2 separate regions of the Homo sapiens genome follow, and region 1 is linked to region 2. The links come from fine-mapping of genetic effects on gene expression. Tissue or cell type: whole blood. Region 2 holds a variant in brackets; the other region holds the start of a gene. All regions are shown on one strand. Distances are between the middles of the regions.

Region 1 (2,911 bases), 35 kb before region 2:
CTTTTAAAAGAGCTCCTCCTTTTACTCTTAAAAAAAAAAAGGTCCAGTTTGGAGGATAAATTATATGCTGACCCTAGTTTAAAACACACTTTGATTTTCTAACATAGTGTTTTCCAGGTGATATTATGCTTTTGCCCACATCATTGCATTTTATTTACATAACTACTCTGCGAAGCAGGAAGGGAAATACTTGATCGCTATTAAATAAAGGAGGTAATCAAGGCTTCGAGGGGTACAGTGGTGACTGAGGTCACACACTCAGGGCCAGAACCTAGGATTCCTGACTTCAAGTCTAAAACTGTTTCAGCTGTGGATCACTATGTGCAAATGTCTGAGTAAAGGCAAACTTCACTCTCCTTTGGTGATCTGCTTGGCACTGGACTTAGAAGTTTAGATACGTTCATCCTTGCACAGAGACTGTTCTTCCACATATAAAGCAAGCAAAGAGATGGAAGAAGAATTATTAGCTAAACAAAAAGAGGCTGTTAGTGAATCCTGGGCCAAAGAATATATTTTACCAGGTCTAATTACATCAGATTACTTGAATCTTACATCTGGCCAAATTAGGATATTTCCATTTAAGAAAAGAAAACCAAAGATCAATAATGCATGCCTACTCTTGCAAAGAATGCAAAGAACATATAAATGGGTTCTGGTCAGTCTTATAGATATATTTTCCTATAATTACACACTAATTCTTTCTTAAAAATATTTCCCAAAACAGCAAAATTCTACCCTCCTTGGTAAGCAGCAAAGGGACAACACGGGAAACAAAACAAAACAAAACAAAACAAAACAAAACATAAAAACCCTAGACCATTTAAAGACAAGCATGGTGCTTTGTAAAATCTTCGGGGTATCACAGAGGTGCTGAATGCGTGGTTACATCAATGAAAAAACGCCCACTCTTTGAGCCTCCTGAAAAGGAGGCCACAGGACCCCCGGGCGCCAGGGCTTGGGAACCCAGCGCCCCTCCTTGTCTGTGCCATGACAGACAGGTTCAGTGTGACTTGCCAAGGATGGCTCCAAGCAGCTGGGCCATGTAGCCTGAACGCAGCAGAGGGTTGGACGCCTTAGAGCCAGCTGTGGGCACCACAGCCCGACCAGGGAGGCAGCGGGTCTCCCCAGGTTAAGAGGCCAGCGGAGGACGCGCGCGGTCTCCTTGGGGGAGGGTGCGGGTGGGCCGGGCGCGCATGCGCATGGGCGCCATCGCCCGCCGGAAGAGCGGCAGCCCAGGCGCTGCTGCTGGCGCCAGACGGCACCGGCCGCTGGTAGAGCGCGTGCCGCGAGATGCGGCCTCAGGACAGCACCGGGGTCGCGGAGCTCCAGGAGCCCGGGCTGCCGCTAACGGACGATGCACCCCCGGGCGCCACTGAGGAGCCGGCGGCCGCCGAGGCAGCTGGGGCGCCAGACCGCGGTAGGTGCTGGCTCTGCCTTTCCTCGCCGTGTTGCTCCCGCACCGAGCCGGGTGAGTGCGCGGTGTGGATCGGGCTCTGGTCTCGCTCGGGGGTCCCGAGCGGGCGCCGGCGGGTTGGGGTCCCCGCAACCCGGGCACAGTGCCCGCCGCGCCTCCGTCCCCACCCTGCCCGGGGCTCGGGAAACCCCTCGAGCTGTCAGCTGGGGGGCTGCAAAGCGGAATTCCCGGCGCCCCAGCCGGCGCTAAGACGGAAGAAACTTTCCGATTGTTAGCAGTCCTTTTGGGATTCCGAGGCTGCTCCTGTAATTAGTGTCGGGGCAGGGCTGTGGAGTCAGACTGCAGTTTGGCGTACCCTCCCCTAGGTCGTAGGTGGGGGGTCAGCGAGAGAGGCCATCCTGCAGTGGGGCGACGTTGCGAGGAAGCTGACCCTGAAAAGTGATCCCGGTGGTTAAGGGTTCTCTCCGAAAAGGAAGCTGAAAAGCATCGAGTCTAGAAAAAATGTTCGTCCTAGAGTTTTAGAATCTTGGAAAGGCAGAGATAAGTGGGACCGCTAGTTTTTAACCTTTAGGGATACAAGGACTTTTTAGCAAACGATGCAGAACAAGGCATATCTTGTTAAGAAGCTCACAGCCCCGTCCCCAAAGTCAGGGACCCCTCGTGAAGAACACTTTATGTTCAGTCCCCCTCCTTCGACACATGAGCAAAGTGAGGCCCAGGAAGGTGAGGGCTTTTGGGTTTTCGTTTGCTTTGTCTCCTCCAAGATGTGGAACGTGGGGGTGAGATGGGGCGCATGTCCAGGGAGCACCAGGGTTAGGATCCCAGCTTGCCATATACCGGCCTAGGGCCCTTTCCACTGGCCACAAGTGCTGCTTCAAGCACATTCCTCTTAGAAGTCGACCATCTACCAGGAGCAGCTTCCTGCAAGAAGAAGGGAATAGGCAGATCTCTTTTTAGGACAGTTACACGGCCTGCACCACCTTGTCCTCTGGGTCACCTCCCCTAAGTGTGACCCTGGATTTCTGTTCCTCTCCTCTCACTGCGCTTTCCCCTCCTCCCTTTGTGCACTTTCCCCAAGTTAGAGAGACAGACTCTAGGAAGACTATTCTTGCTCCATTTCTGTCCTAAAGGCAAACCGAAATGATCAGACTTGTGATCATTTATAAATGGGCTGGTGCCTCTAGAACAGGGGTTATGCCAGGCTGAATTGAACAGATAAGCAGCCTTTGAAAAGGTCAGTTTCTCACCTATCACCCTCTGGGTGAATGTCCTTCTGGTGGCATGCCGAATCAGTCCATGCAAACTCTTAAAGTTTCCCCTTTTTGTGAATGGAAGAGGAATTCTCTACTCCCAGGCAGCTCATGGCAAGATGAGAAACTTACGTGAGTGTATCTAAGAATCTTGTGGGTGTTTAACTTCAAAGAAAGTTTCTACCAGTAAGACTTAGTTATTGTAAGGTGACAAGATAATATTTTGGAAAGAAAATTGACATAAAAA
Region 2 (2,911 bases):
GGGCGGATCACGAGGTCAGGAGATCAAGACCATCATGGCCAACATGGTGAAACCCCATCTCTGCTAAAATACAAAAAATTAGCTGGGCATGGTGGCGGGCACCTGTAGTCCCAGCTGCTTCGGAGGCTGAGGCAGGGGAATTGCTTGAGCCCGGGAAGCAGAGGTTGCAGTGAGCCAAGATCGCACCACTGCACTCCAGCCTGGTGATAGAGCAAGACTCCATCTCAAAAAAACAAAAAGCAAAAAACTTTCACCTCCCAGTTACAGTGAGTTTCTTCCCCTTTTCTCCTTCTGGAGTGCCCTGTTCTTACCTCAGTAATTGTTCTAGTGGGTGTTCTAATTATTAGTTTAAGAGTCTGTCTCGGTTGTACCAAGATGGCCGAATAGGAACAGCTCCAGTCTACAGCTCCCAGTGTGAGCGACGCAGAAGACAGGTGATTTCTGCATTTCCTACTGAGGTACTGGGTTCATCTCACTGGGGCTTGTTGGACAGTGGGTGTAGCCCACGGAGCATGAGCCAAAGCAGGGTGGGGCATTGCCTTACCCAGGAAGCACAAGGGGTGGGGGAATTTACTTTCCTAGCCAAGGGAAGCCGTGACAGATGGTACCTGGAAAATTGGGACACTCCCACCCTAATACTGTGTTTTTCCACCAGTCTTAGCGAATGGCACACCAGGAGATTATATCCCATGACTGGCTTGGAGGGTCCCACACACCCACGGAGCCTCGCTCACTGCTAGCACAGCTGTCTGAGATCAAACTGCAAGACGGCAGTGAGGCTGGGGGAGGGGTGTCTGCCATTGCTGAGGCTTGAGTAGGTAAACAAAGTGGCTGGGTGGAGCCCACCACAGCTCAAGGAGGCCTGCCTGCCTCTGTAGACTCCAACTCTGGGGGCAGGGCATAGCTGAACAAAAGGCAGCAGAAACTTCTGCAGACTTAAACGTCCCTGTCTGACAGCTTTGAAGAGAGTAGTGGTTCTCCCAGCACAAAGTTTGAGATCTGAGAACAGACAGACTGCCTCCTCAAGTGGGCCTAAATGGGAGGCACCTCCCAGTAGGGGCCGACTGACACCTCATATGGCTACATGCCCCTCTGAGACCAAGCTTCCAGAGGAAGGATCAGGCAGCAAAATTTGCCATTCTGCAATATTTGCTGTTCTGCAG[T/C]CTCCGCTGGTGATACCCAGGCAAACAGGGTCTGGAGTGGACCTCCAGCAAACTCCAACAGACCTGCAGCTGAGGGTCCTGACTGTTAGAAGGAAAACTAACAAACAAAAAGGACATCCACATCAAAACCCCATCTATACGTCACCATCATCAAAGACCAAAGGTAGATAAAACCAGAAAAATGGGGAGAAACTAGAGCACAAAAGCGGAAAATTCTAAAAATCAGAGAGCCTCTTCTCCTCCAAAGGAAAACAGCTCCTCTCCAGCAACAGAACAAAGCTGGATGGAGAATGACTTTGACGAGTTGAGAGAAGAAGGCTTCAGACCATCGGTAATAACAAATTTCTCCAAGCTAAAGGAGGATGTTCGAACCCATCGCAAACAAGCTAAAAACCTTGAAAAAAGATTAGATGAATGGCTAACTAGAATAAACAGCATAGAGAAGACCTTAAATGACCTGATGGAGCTGAAAACCATGACACGAGAACTACGTGATGCATGCACAAGCTTCAGTAGCTGATTCGATCAAGTGGAAGAAAGCATATTGGTGACTGAAGATCAAATGAATGAAATGAAGCAAGAAGAGAAGTTTAGAGAAAAAAGAGTAAAAAGAAATGAACAAAGCCTCCAAGAAATATGGGACTATGTGAAAAGGCCAAATCTACATCTGATTGGTGTACCTGAAAGTGATGGGGAGAATGGAACCAAGTGGAAAAACACTCCGCAGGATATTATCCAGGAGAACTTCCCCAACCTAGCAAGGCAGCCAATATTCAAATTCAGGAAATACAGAGAACGCCACAAAGATACTCCTCAAGAAGAGCAACTCCAAGACACATAACTGTCAGATTCACCAAGGTTGAAATGAAGGAAAAAATGTTAAGGGCAGCCAGAAAGAAAGGTTGGGTTACCCACAATGGGAAGCCCATCAGACTAATAGTGGATCTCTCAGCAGAAACTCTACAAGCCAGAAGAGAGTGGGGGCCAATATTCAACATTCTTAAAGAAAAGAATTTTCAACTCAGAATTTCACATCCAGCCAAACAAAGCTTCATAAGTGAAGGAGAAATAAAATCCTTTACAGACAAGCAAACGCTGAGAGATTTTGTCACCACCAGGCCTCCCTTACAAGAGCTCCTGAAGGAAGCACTAAACATGGAAAGGAACAACCGGTACCAGCCACTGCAAAAACATGCCAAATTGTAAAGACCATTGAGGCTAGGAAGAAACTGCATCAACTAACGAGCAAAATAACCAGCTAACATCATAATGACAGGATCAAATTCACACATAACAATATTAACCTTAAATGTAAATGGGCTAAATGCTGCAATTAAAAGACACAGGCTGGCAAATTGGAGAAAGAGTCAAGACCCATCAGTGTGCTGTATTTGGGAGACCCATCTCATGTGCAGAGACACAGATAGGTTCAAAATAAAGGGATGGAGGAAGATCTACCAAGCAAATGGAAAACAAAACAAAGGAGGGTTTGCAATTCTAGTCTCTGATAAAACAGACTTGAAACCAACAAAGATCAAAAGAGACAAAGAAGGACATTACATAATGGTAAAGGGATCAATTCAACAAGAAGAGCTAACTATCCTAAATATATATGCACCCAATACAGGAGCACCCAGATTCATAAAGCAAGTCCTTAGAGACCTACAAAGAGACTTAGACTCCCACACAATAAAGATGGGAGACTTTAACACCCCACTGTCAACATTAGACAGATCAATGAGACAGAA

The links. PIP is the estimated chance that this variant, and not a neighbour inherited with it, causes the effect. A credible set is the group of variants that fine-mapping cannot tell apart.
Region 1: SLC35G1 starts here. The variant in region 2 is the best candidate, but not a certain one, in a credible set for the expression of SLC35G1 in whole blood (TOPMed, PIP 0.54).

Annotation. Positions count from the first base shown.
Region 1 is chr10:93,892,744-93,895,654 of GRCh38, forward strand. SLC35G1 (solute carrier family 35 member G1) reads left to right here and starts at 1,235. Exons shown (of 3, transcript NM_001134658.3): 1 at 1,235-1,468. The coding sequence starts at 1,291. RefSeq lists a silencer at 1,209-1,638.
Region 2 is chr10:93,927,334-93,930,244 of GRCh38, forward strand. No RefSeq gene overlaps it. Among named protein-coding and RNA genes, the nearest start is that of SLC35G1, 35 kb to the left of the region's middle. RefSeq lists an enhancer at 1-800. The variant T/C (reference allele first, on the strand shown) is at 1,164.